3 separate regions of the Homo sapiens genome follow, and regions 1 and 2 are each linked to region 3. The links come from fine-mapping of genetic effects on gene expression. A gene starts in region 3. Each other region holds a variant in brackets. All regions are shown on one strand. Distances are from middle to middle. Region 1 overlaps ARRB1 (arrestin beta 1). Region 2 has its middle 5.0 kb from the start of RPS3. Region 3 holds the start of ARRB1 (arrestin beta 1).

Region 1 (4,198 bases), 85 kb after region 3:
CGTGATCTTAGCTCACTGCAACCTCCGCCTCCCAGGCTCAAGAGATTCTCCTGCCTCAGCCTCCCGAGTAGCTGAGATTACAGGCGGCTGCCGCCACACCTGGCTGATTTTTGTATTTTTAGTAGAGACGGGGTTTCACCATGTTGGCCAGGCTGGTCTCAAACTCCTGACCTCAGGTGATCTTCCCGCCTCAACCTCCCAAAGTGCTGGGATTACAGGCATGAGCTACCATGCCTGGCCTGGCCTGTTTTTCAAGTGATAGCAGATTGGTCATATTTCATTGAATCTGAGACTTTCAGTGGAGAGAGACAACATAATAGTAGGTACAATTAGGAAAAAACTTCCATGGTTAAACTGTGCAGTGCCATCGACGGTAAGACACACTCCAAATTTGGAGATGTTAAAATGTGAAGGAAAATATAAAAAAGATTGTCTTAGAATTGGTGAATGGCATGCATGCAAGGAATTAATGTAATTCATGTTGGAGACCTGTCAAAAGAAACAGAAGTTTAGAGGATTTTCTGTTCTTCTGGGGCTGCAGTGGGGATCCGGGGCCCTCCTGGTGCCATCCTCCCTGCCTTTCAGATGATTTGGGGTGTTTCAGTACCAGGAATGAGTCCTCCCCCATCTCCATTCCCCTTTATCCTTTGCCCTTCTCATGTTAGTCTGGTTGTCCCAGGGTGGGGGCCTGTGCTTACTCGCCCCGTGCTCATCCACTCACTAATCCCTGGACACCCTGCCCACCCACCCTGTGTTTAGTTCCAGAGAACGAGACGCCAGTAGATACCAATCTCATAGAACTTGACACAAAGTAAGCTGAACCCTGCCTGCAGACATCCGGGGGTGGGCCGCGGGTGGGCGGGGTGGAGGGGGTCATTTGCATATATGCTTATTAACTCCTGAGGAGCCGCTGGTCTAACCCCGTCTGCTGAGAGCCACCTCTGCTCGCCTCTTCAGCAACCCGCTTGCCTGCATGTGACTTGAAGGACCCTCCGTGCCTGTTCCTCTTCCTCCTGCCTTGGTGGGGTCTGTCTTCCTCCCTCGTCCTTGCACGTCCGTCCGTCAGTCCGTTCGTCCATCCACAGCGCCTGCTCGGCTCACACAGGGCTGGTCCATGGCCCTGGGCTCGGCTCTCCTGTCCTGCCCACGCCAACCAGTGGAATCAGGCTGTGGGGTGGGCAGGGGACTGGGGATCTTGTTGCTTCTGACTCCTGAGGACCAACCGATGTGGATTTCCCTGCAGTCAAAGGCCATCGAGTCACCGGACAGTGGCCAGAGGGGGAGGACCTGGGCCGACTGCGCGGACCGCCTCCAGGTCCAAGTGGCTTTCTTGCTCCAGCTCCAAAGCCAATCTTCCCTTGTCCCCCAGGAGAAATCTGGGGTGTGGGGGTCTCAGGTCACCCCATGAGGATGCCCCATGCACTGGCTGAACCCTGTTGGGCAGGGGACCCAGGTGGACACCTGCATGGTCCTAAATGGACATGTTTCATGGTAGAAGGGAACTCGCTGTTCTTAAAGGCAGTCTAGTCCTGAAACCCCACTCAAGCCTCCCCTTTCCTCACGAACAGGTCCTCTGCCCCCCTATTTAGATTCACATCCTCCTACCCCAGCCTTCTTCTGTCTGGGATCCCCCAAGGTAGAATCTGAGCTGACACTTCTGGGAGAAAGGTTCTTCATGGTCTTCTCTTTCATTAAGCCAAACTACTCCTTGCTGTCCAGAAACGGGAATGCTTCCTAAGGGTAGTTTTCTGGGTGGTGGGGTGGGGTTTGCCGGGCCTATTCTTGGGGGATTCAGAACATGCTGTGAAACTACTGGTGGCCTGGCCTCTCACAGTGGGAATAAGTCCTTCCTCTGGCTACAGAGCCACACTGCTCCCCCCACCTCCTAAAGAACCAGGTTACTTTTCTAGCCCTCAGGCACAAGAGTCAAATTCATGCCCCTCTCTGCCCCTTTCATGACTGGCCCGAGTCCTGATGTGACTGTCCCCACTGCCACAGGTGGCATCCACATGTGCCAGCCAGACAGGCCTTTCTGCTCATGGTCAGCCCCAGAGGCCAGAGACCTCAGAGAGGGTGGTTCTCCCCGGCCCCAGAGCCATACTCTGAGTCACATCTGGCCGGGCCTCTGGATAAGCCTACTCTCCCTGCCCCTGCAAACACACCACATTTTCCTTGTCTCTCCCACCAGTGATGACGACATTGTATTTGAGGACTTTGCTCGCCAGAGACTGAAAGGCATGAAGGATGACAAGGAGGAAGAGGAGGATGGTACCGGCTCTCCACAGCTCAACAACAGATAGACGGGCCGGCCCTGCCTCCACGTGGCTCCGGCTCCACTCTCGTGCACTCGGATGCTTACTCGTCTTCTTCCTGTTCTGGTTTCTTTTCCCCTTTGTTCTTCCAGTTTCTACCAGGGGGCCCCGTGGGCTTCCAGATCAC[G/A]GTGATGAACCTCTGGCCTCAGGATTGGCCCCACATCACCACGCCAACAGGACCACAGCGCACTGGCTCCACCCCATCTCTGCCATCTCCACTCCCCTCCTTTTCATGCTGTCTCCCAGAAAAGCTGCCAGGGCTCTGGCCTTGGAATTGGACTTGAGATGGGGAGCAGACAGGGGAGGATGGGGAATGTGGGACACGGTGTGGTGGGCATGAGGGCTTGGAGGGGTGGGGATGAGGGCTCAAGACACGAGAGAAGATGTCCACGGTCCCAGGTGGTTAACAAAGTTCTGGCAGCTAAAAGATGACCGCGTTGAAGGCCACCTCCTTCTGGCTGGGAGGGGCAGAACTGTGGACAGATTCTCAATGCCTTTTTGAAGTTCTGACCCACCAAAGACCTTCTGCCTTCACCCTCCTCCCCACCTGATGTCCCTCTGTGTCTGATAGTGATGTTGGTGAAAGTTCGTAGACCCCAGGAGTAGAGAAAAGCAACTGGACTGACTTTCTTACCAGCAGTTACCTAGACTGAGGCAAGCTGTGTGGACTCACCCAAGTATATTTCAGTACTGTCAGGCTGTGACATCTTAGCTACCTTGTATTTCAAGTGCATGGCCCTGTCTAGAGATATGCACAGAGAGAAAAGCAGAGGGAGGGAGGGAGGGGGTCTTCAGCAAGCACCAGCCCCCAGCAGAGTGAGCTGAAGCTCCTGAGGAGGGTTCCCGAAGGGGGGCGCTCAGAGATGGGGGCAGGGGGCGGGGAGAGGAGAGTCTGCCTTATGTCCCTTCCTTGTGGACTTCACATGGTCATGCAGGAAGTGAGGATGGGTGTCCAGCGGGGGCCGAGGCCACTAGTATCCTCCTGCTTCCCCCTGCCATTCTCCAGGGCTGGACTGACCCTATGGACTGGGAGAGAGTGCCTGAGGCCACCATGCCACAGTCAAAGGGGGTCCTATCTCAGAAGGTGGCAGCATCCACTGAGATATCCTCACCCGAAGGGAAGGAGGCTGCTGGGTAGCAAATAAGCCCCTTCTTTTCTTGGTGAGTTGATGACCTCCAATAGCTCCCAGTGTCATGGGTACCCAGTACGCATTAGCTGGTGTTGGGTTGATTGAGACCTGGGGCAGTTCCTGGGGCAAGAAGCCAGATGGGAGATGAGATAGAAAGTGTTAGGAGTTATCCTCTTTGCCTGGCCTTTGAGAATAACTTACTGTGTGACTTTGGGCAAGTTCCTTCCCCACTCTGGGCCTCAGTTTCTCACTTGGGAAAGCAAGGAGTTTGACCAGATGATCACAATGGGCCTTCCTAGCTCTGGCCACCAAGAATTTGTGAACATTAGAGCTCCTGGTCTGGTGGGTAGAGCCAGAGCTGCTGACTGGTCTCTCTGCCTCCAGAGGGGATTTATTGGACCTCAGAGGTGGCAGGGCCCTATGGAGCACCAACTGCCCTCAACCCCACCCTGTGCCCAAGACTGGGAAGGGATTGATGTCAGGCTGTGGCCATAGGTAGCATGAGTTGCCCAAGGAGGGACAGAGCATATCTTTGCTGAGGCTTGGCTGAGGGGCTTATGATAGGGCTTGCAGTACCTCACAGCCCCCTGTGGGCACAGACACCCTGAGGTTTACCCAGGCAAATATATTGATTAGCAGGACAAGGGCTCTCTCCTCAGTTTCTGCTCCCTTCCATCTCTCTCCCATACTTGTCTGAAAAGGGAGACAAAAAATCTTATACAAGTGGCATCTCAATCCTTTCCAGTCCAGCACCTC
Region 2 (4,198 bases), 43 kb before region 3:
CACTGGCTAATTTTTGTGTTTTTAGTAGAGACAGGGTCTCACCATGTTGGCCAGGCTGGTCTCGAACTCCTGACCTCAGATGATCCACCCACCTCGGCCTCCCAAAGTGCTGGGATTACAGGCGTGAAGCACTGTGCCCAGCAGAAGCCCTAGTTTCTGACTTCAGTTGTGAATGCTTGGCGACAATCCTTACCAAGATGAGGAACCTAGGAATAAGTTGTTTTTCTTCCCCCCCCCACCCCCCATCCATCTGTTATCTCTCTCTGCTCTTCATGTGCCTCTTCATCCAACTCCTTGGTCTGTCTATAGAGTGGGGCCAGGTTGCTGAAAACATGAGCCTGGTAAATCCACCTGCCTATGGATTCACTAGAGATGTGGGCGCTGAGGGAGAGCACCTGGCCTTGCGTGCTGGGATCAGAGTAAAATCACAGCAGGCTCCTAGACCCTCTCAGTGAATCGCTTCTATTTTTCATTCCCATATGCCTCACATTCTCCCACGGTCCCTATTATAATCTTTGACAAAGCTAGAACCCCAGAACCTCCTCCTCACTTTCAATAGTCAACCTCCCTCCTAGTCCCTTGCCCCCCTAATAGATTGCACAACCAGAAACTGCCTCCCGCCCATCCTATAATCCCATGTGTCCCTGGCTATCCTTTCCTCCTTCCTTCCTGGCTTAGGAAAGAGACCCTCTTTCTTCCCAAGGCCAGCCTTCCCATTGTGTTCTGGTCCCAGTTTAGTTCTGTTTCCTTAAGACCTTGCTCTAGCAATCATTCTCCCCGTTGCCCATGGTAATCTCACTTCATACTGACTCTTTCCCTTCCCTGCTGCCCGCATGTTAAATACACCACTTCTTCAGGGTTTTGCCTCCTCTCATTGCTTTGATAGCGTTCTGTGCATCCCCTCCTGTGACACTCAGCTCACTGGGTTGGAATGGTCTATGTGTTTCTCTCAGTAGACTGTAGGTTCTGTAAGAGCCTGGACTGAGCCTATTTTATTCATTCTATTCAGAGCTTGGATCTGGACAGGCTCAGGCCCAGTGTCAGTCAAAGTTTGAAGAGCAAACAAATCAATGCATGGATTCTGGTTTTTAGATAGTTACTCGTAGCGTGGAACTAATATGAATTTGCCTGCACATGCTGTATCTTATTTGGGATGTTCAGAAAACCAAATTCTGGAGGCTCAAAGCTGAGGATCAGACAGTGGCAAGTTCTCTGAGGTAAATGCTTCTTGATGATGTGGTAGCTCATCTGCTGCCCTTCCCCAGGGATGCCAGGAGGCTGCCTGCCTGAGTGTCACCCCCTAGTCCCAGGAGAAAGTCCATGAAGGAAGCCTTTGTCTTGATCATACTGCCCTTCCTTTGTCTAAGACTATTATAAGAAAAAGGCAATATAGTACTCAAAATAATGCTATGAAAACAATAGTAGTTGTGATACACTGAGTTGTAATTAAGAGCAAGGACAGTGAGAGTGCCTTAATCTCTCCCTGGGTATCCAAAATGAAAGCAAGGCTTTATCTGTTCAGCCCACAGAGTCACAGAATTCTCCCTGGGATTGTGAAGAGAGGACTGTGTGTGTCTGAGAAAAATATGGCTTTGTGGCCACACTTGGGCCATGCAGGGGCCCTCTGAGCGTCACAAAGGTACTTTCCTGAAATTCCTGAAAACCAAAGGTGAGATTTGCCCTGGTCAAATGAATACAGCCCACAGTTTCTGGGAACAGTTTGAAAACAGTAGAACCTCATAGAAAGCATTGAATTTACCTGAATCCAAAGGCTGGGCATGGTGGCTCACGCCTGTAATCCCAGCACTTCGGGAGGCCAAGGCAGGCAGATCACTTGAGGCCAGGAGTTTGAGACCAGCCTGGCCAACATGGTGAGACCCCCGTCTCTACTAAAAATACAAAAATTAGTCAGGCATGATGGCAGGCCTATAGTCCCAGCTACTCAGGAGGCTGAGGCACGAGACTCATTTGAGCGCAGGAGGTGGAGTTTGCAGTGAGCCATGATTGCGCCACTGCACTCCAGCCTGGGCAACAGAGTGAGACTCTGTCTCAGGAAAAAAAAAAAAAGGAAAGAAAGAGAGAAAAACTTACCTGAATCCCACTCGATGAGCTTGGCAAAGAAAGAGAATTGAAGTCGTGGGAATAGGGGTGGGTGTGCCTGCCTCACTGCTCCAGAGTGGCTCAGAGGGAGGTGGGAAGACAGAGGAGCTTCTACTGTTCACAGAGAGAGGGTACATGGGTCTCCATTATGGCACCTGTTAAGGGATTGCTGTTCTAGGGCAATAGCGACTATATTCAGTTGTCACTTACTTTAGAGTCTGACACCCCCAGAGAGACACAATGATGTCATTGGATTCTCAGTGTTTTGTTTAAAATT[G/T]ATCAGTGACTCACTCTGGGTCTCAAATTGAGTCTGCATATTCATAGAAGAATGCTGTCAAATAAATTTGAACAGATCTTTTTTTTTATTGCTTTTGTATCATTGCTTAAAAGACTCACACTTCTGAATACCCCTACTTAAAATAAAAATAAGATTCAGTGTATGGAAGAGTGTGATAAAACAAACATCCTCACTCTGTAGGTGAGGTGTGAATTGGTACTTCCTTTTTGGAGGGCAGCTTGGCAGTATCCACTAAAATTGAAGATGTAGATTCCCTTTGGCCCAGAAAATACATTTCTTTTTATCTACTGCAGAAAAAGACTCACACAATGTACATGGGGTGATTACAAGAATGCTTATTAGAACATTATTAGTAATAGTGAAAAAATAAATTATAAACAGCCAAAAAGCCCTGAAGTAGGAAAATGGTTATGGAATATTATGTAATCACTAAAAAAAAAGAAATAGATCTGTGTACTTGCATGGAAAAAGCATTAAGTAATTCTGCTATGTGAAAAAAAGCAAGATGCAGAAAAATATTACTCTATAATATTTATGTAAAATATAATAAAACATATCTATGCATGTAAATGTATGGAAGGATTTATACTCAACTGATAGAGAACTAAGGTTACCTCTGGGGAATGCAGCAGTATTAGGGGAGGTTAAGGAGCAATTTATGGCTTGACTTTTCTTAAAATATATTGGCTGGGTGCAGTGGCTCACGCCTTTAATCCCTGCACTTGGGGAGGCTGAGGTGGGCAGATTGCTTGAACTCAGGAGTTCGAGACGGGCCTGGGCAAAACTCCATCTCTACAAAAAGATACAAAAATTAGCTGGGCGTGTGGGTCTGTAGTCCTAGCTACTCAGGAGGCTGAGGTGGGAGGATGGCTTGAACCTGGGAGGTGGAGGTTGCAGTGAGCCCAGATCGTGCCTCTGCACTCCAGCCTGGGTGACAGAGCGAGACTCTGTCTCAAAAAACAAAAAAGAAAAAAATATATATATGCATGTGTTACTTGTGAAATGAAAACAAAGAAAAAAGAAAAAAAATGTAAGGAGACACGAACATATATGGATTTCTGATCATGCGACCACTTGTGAAACAATGGGGATGTCTTTTCCTACAACACAAAATGGCATAATCCTTTCTTCTGAAAACTCAGAGTCTCTTTTTTTTAAAAAAAAAACTTTTCATCTACAATGTGATCTATGATAGAAAACTCAGAGTCTCAGGCCAGGAGCTGTGGCTCACGCCTGTAATCCCAGCACTTTGGGAGGCTGAGGTGGATGGATCACCAGAGGTCAGGAGTTCAAGGCCAGCCTGGCCAACATGGTGAAACCCCATCTCTACTAAAAATACAAAATTAGCCGAGTGTGGTGGCACACACCTGTAATCTCAGCTACTCGGGAGGCTGAGGCAGGAGAATTGCTTGAACCTGGGAGGCGGAGGTTGCAGTGAGCCGAGATGGCGCCACTGCACTACAGCCTGGGCGACAGAGCAAGACTCCGTCTCAGGAAAAAAAAAAAAAAAAAAAAAACTCAGAGTCTCTTATTCAGACTATACATTTGTATTATCTTATACCATAGGCACTGACCTCATGGGGCTTTTGAGCACATAAAAATGGCTAGTCTGGATGGAAAAATGCTGTAAGCATAAAATACACACCAGATTTGGAAATACAAAAAGGAATATAATGTCTCATTAATATTTTATATTGATTACATGTTGAAACAATAACACTTTATATATAGGGTTAAATAAAATGTTATTACAATTAAGTTCATCTATTTCTTTTTGCTTTTTGCTACTAGAACATTTAG
Region 3 (4,198 bases):
GGAGGCCAAGGTGGGTGGATCACCTAAGGTCAGGAGTTCGAGACCAGCCTGGCCAACATGGTGAATCCCTATCTCTACAAAAATACAAAAATTAGCTGGGCATGATGGCAGTGGCTGTAATTCCAGCTACTGGGGAGGCTGAGGTGGCAGAATTTCTTGAACCCAGGAGGCAGAGGTTGCAGTGAGCCAAGATCATTCCATTGTACTCCAGCCTGGGTGGCAGAGCAAGACTTCGTCTCAAAAATAAATAAAATAAATAAATATATTTAGATGTTTTGGGCATCAGCATGGAGAGATCCATTGGAGATCTTATGGTTTGGTCAAACCTGTTTTACAGGTGGGGAAACTGATGTGGAGAGTGGCAGGACCTGGCTTCACCATCCTGGTTAGGGATCTCCTGTCATCAAAGAAGATTCTAGTCTGCTCCTTTCCAGATCTCTGAGCCCTGCAGAAACAACAGGTGGCTTCCTCTTCTTCCTCTGTAGAGGGTGAAACCCAGAGGCCAAGACTGGGAGGAGGGTTCTGGGCTTTCATCCATACTCTCTAGCTCCTAACATTGCCCAGAGGTGGGCCACCCTGCCTACCCATCAGCCTCCCCCTGCCCCTCTGCCAAATCTGGACATAATTATAGTAATTATACTGCATATAAACAGTATAGGTAACTGCTTCTGAGCATAATTACAGGAGATGTTTACATACTCACAACAGCATCAGAGTAAATGATAGCTTACTTTCCCCTTAATACTTAGATATCAGGGACCTATCCGGGATAATTAGCCAAATCTCAGTAGTGAGGGTGTGGTAAAGACCTTACCGTTTCCCACTACCTGCAAAGCAGGAAGGCACCTCAGACAAAGCAGGGTCCCAGCCAAGATTTCACAGGACATCAAGAAGCCTGCAGAGAAGTGGGCTAACATCTACTGGGCACCTACTGTATGCAGGCGCTCAGGGGAGGCCAGCAAACACAAGCGAGTTCTTTCAACCTATTAACAATTCTGCAGGCTGATATTAGTGTATCCTCACTTTACAGGTCCGGACATGGGTTCTCAGAAGCTTAGTGCACAGGGTCACCCACAGCGAGCCATGGAGCTGGGCATGGGCGCTTTCCACGGTGCTACCCGGTCACAGCAGCGGGCCAGCTCTGCCCTCTTCCTTTATCGCCTCTTCTCACTTCTCACAGCTTCCTCTTCCTGGGCGGCCTCCTGCAGCCCCTGCTGGCCGCGGGTCTCCGCTCAGTTCCCCAGTGTCAAGGCCGTCTACTGCCCCCTCCGCCCCTTCTTCCTGTCCCTGTTGTGTGGCTGGGTGTTATCTCTCCAGTAGAAGGGGGTGGGGTGGGTGGAATGGGGAAGGGTGGAGCACAGGGCGAAGGCCTTGCCAGGCATCCCGGGGTCTCCAGCTAAGCGAGGGGCCGCAGGGAGCGCGGCCTCGGGGTCGCCAGACCCTCGGCTTCCAACCACCCGCACACACAAAGGCTGCCCCGGCATGCGCGGGAGAGCGCGCTCGCACCCACGGCCGTGCGCACACACGCACAACTGCACAAAGACGTGCACACTCCTCCATCCACACCAATACACTCCCTAATAGGGCCCGCACACAGCCGTGCGCCCTCACATACACCACACCACCACCACCACCACCACACACACACACACACACTCTCACACGGACTCGCACGCGGGTGGACCCCCTCCCCCACCACAAACGCCGACCTTGGGGCCCTGACGCGTCCCGCCGCGCTGCCCTGCCTCGCTGGGCGGCGCGCGCACACGCAGACGCGCACACACACACACATACACACACGCACACACCCCGCGCGGTTCCACGCCCCTGGCCGCGGCCCGGGCGCTGCGCTGCTCGACGCGGCGGGCGGCGGGCGGGGACCGGGGGCGGGGGCGGCGGCGGCGGCCGGGAGAGCGGAGGAGGCGGAGCAGGGAGCCGGGAGCGGGCTGGCCCGCGCTCCTCCTGCTGGCTGGGGATTTTCCAGCCTGGGCGCTGACGCCGCGGACCTCCCTGCGACCGTCGCGGACCATGGGCGACAAAGGGACCCGGTGAGTGCAGGGCGGCCGCCCGGCGGGGGGCGCGTGGGGGCGACCTCGGCGAGGACACGGGCGGGGGCTCCGATTGCGTCCTGGTTCTGCGTTCGCGGCCACCGCGGGATCTAGTACCAGCTCTCCTCCACCCGAGGTCTCCTGTGTGGTCTCCCCGGCAGGGCCGTGGGCGGGGGGACCCAAAGGGCGAGGGCCGGGCCGCCCCATGTGGGCCGCAGCTCCTGGCCCGGACACACAGCTCGCTGACACCCAGCATTGGCCGGCAGCCGCAGAGACGCACGGGGGCAGGTTGACACACAATACACGCACGGGCACACTAACCCGTGGCACAGGCATGCTGGCGCACACACTGGCAACCGCTAGCACACGCTCATCACACGCAGTGGCACGCCGTCATACACGCCTCGGTCAACACATTCTTGCTGACAGCCTTGTTGGCATGCACAGCTCACAATCCAACACACACCAATTCTAGCACACCCTCGTGCTGGCACACACGTGTGGGCATACACTGATACGCACACTGTCACCTGCACTCGCTGTAGCAAACACTCTTGCTGGCACACACATCACCCTCACTGGCACACACACTTGTGCTGGCATGTCTCACCAACACAGCGGAGCGCAAGGCCACACCAACACTGACCCCCACAGACACAATCAGACTGATGCCCTCAAAGACTGGCACCCCACAGGCACGAGCTGCTAGCCCAAGGCCCGCTGACACACACGCTTCAGGCCCCACATGGCCAGAAGTGGAAACACACACATCACACAGGGTAGAGCGCCCCCCGCCACCCCCAGCCTGGGGAAAACAGATCGCATTTCATCCAAATAGATCCCATCCATCTACTCTGTTCCCTTTCCCTCTGACCTCCTGAGGAGTGGCTGGCCAGGGGCTGTTTTGAACCTAGGGCTGGGAGAACCCCTCCCGTTCTCCTAGAACCTGTCCTGAAATACTCAGAAACAGTCTCTGCCTCTGAAAGGGGAAACTGGGACAAAAGGAGGAGGGGGCTGGAGCAGGACAGCCCCTGGGGGCAGCCCTTCAGACAGGACCAGCGCTGGTCAGGGGCTCAGCGTTGCCACCCTATTTTCCCCGTTGCCCTCCCCACCCCCTAAGTGGGCACAGCAGCCTCTCCCTGGGCTCCCCCTCTTTCTCATTGTTTTCTGTCTTTCTCTTCTATTCTTGTGTCCGACTTCTGCCTCCTTCCTTTCCTCCCCTCCCCTCTCCTCGTTTCCATTTATTATTAAGCTCTTGCTGTATACTAGGCGTAGTGTGGGGGATCAAAGATGCGCAAGGCCCACTCCTCCCCTGAAGGAGCTAACAGACTAGAGAGACACCACCCCGGTGGGCACCACCTTTCAGGGCCACTGACAAAGCTATTTCTCACCCACTGCCATCTAAGACTCTCTCTCCACAGTGTGAGAAAGGGCTTGCAGAGATTATTTCCATTTTCTAGAGGAGGAAACAGGCTCAGAGGCAACTCAGGCTCTTAATGTTTAGAAACTACTTTCCAGCCATCCTCCTGACAGCTCTTCCAGGAGGTTAATTTTCCTCTTCCTGTTTTCTAGCAGAGGAACCAGAGGGCTAGAGGCCATGTGATTTGCCTAAGGTCAAAAGGGGCCAGAGGCAGGGCGGAGGCTGGAGTCCACTTGGTCATGTCTCTGTGGATGGCCCTAGGGCACTGCCAGGCCCCTCATGGGCCAGGGAGGGGAGCCCTGCTCTGTGCTGGAGGCCCAGGCTTTGGGGGGGACGGCAGAAGATCATGCTGTGTCTGCATGAACCTTGATGGCTAGTCCCCATTGCAGCTGGCTGGCCAGCACTGTGACCTAGGCCTCTGTCCTCAGTAGGAAGGTATGTGACTCCTTCCCCAGCCACATCCATCTGCCCTGAAATTAAGACCCTCTTGACCCATGAGGTCAGGCTTTTCTTCCTGCAGGGCATAGCAGGGAGTCGGAGCCATTCTCCACTCCATTGTCCTTCCTAGGCTGCCTTGTGATCGGAGTGACTCAGCCTCTCTTGGGTCTCTCTGTACCTCTCTGTGACTTGGGGGATAAGTGTCATTGTTGTCCTGCTGACATGATTGTCAGGAAGATGTGGACACCATGGGCTTCCAGGCACCTGTTGGAGACCCTGTCTCTGAGGCCAA

What was found. PIP is the estimated chance that this variant, and not a neighbour inherited with it, causes the effect.
Region 1: its variant is the best candidate, but not a certain one, in a credible set for the expression of ARRB1 in whole blood (INTERVAL, PIP 0.74).
Region 2: its variant is the best candidate, but not a certain one, in a credible set for the expression of ARRB1 in whole blood (INTERVAL, PIP 0.55).

The regions. Positions count from the first base shown.
Region 1 is chr11:75,264,265-75,268,462 of GRCh38, reverse strand. It overlaps ARRB1 (arrestin beta 1), which reads left to right. Exons shown (of 16, transcript NM_004041.5): 15 at 760-811; 16 at 2,189-4,198. The coding sequence ends at 2,300. Among named protein-coding and RNA genes, the nearest start is that of TPBGL, 26 kb to the right of the region's middle. RefSeq lists enhancers at 1,779-2,278, 2,279-2,780 and a silencer at 2,369-2,458. The variant G/A (reference allele first, on the strand shown) is at 2,440.
Region 2 is chr11:75,392,433-75,396,630 of GRCh38, reverse strand. No RefSeq gene overlaps it. Among named protein-coding and RNA genes, the nearest start is that of RPS3, 5.0 kb to the left of the region's middle. The variant G/T (reference allele first, on the strand shown) is at 2,378.
Region 3 is chr11:75,349,438-75,353,635 of GRCh38, reverse strand. It overlaps ARRB1 (arrestin beta 1), which reads left to right and starts at 1,975. Exons shown (of 16, transcript NM_004041.5): 1 at 1,975-2,048. The coding sequence starts at 2,029. RefSeq lists enhancers at 767-1,722, 2,785-2,834 and a silencer at 1,955-2,234.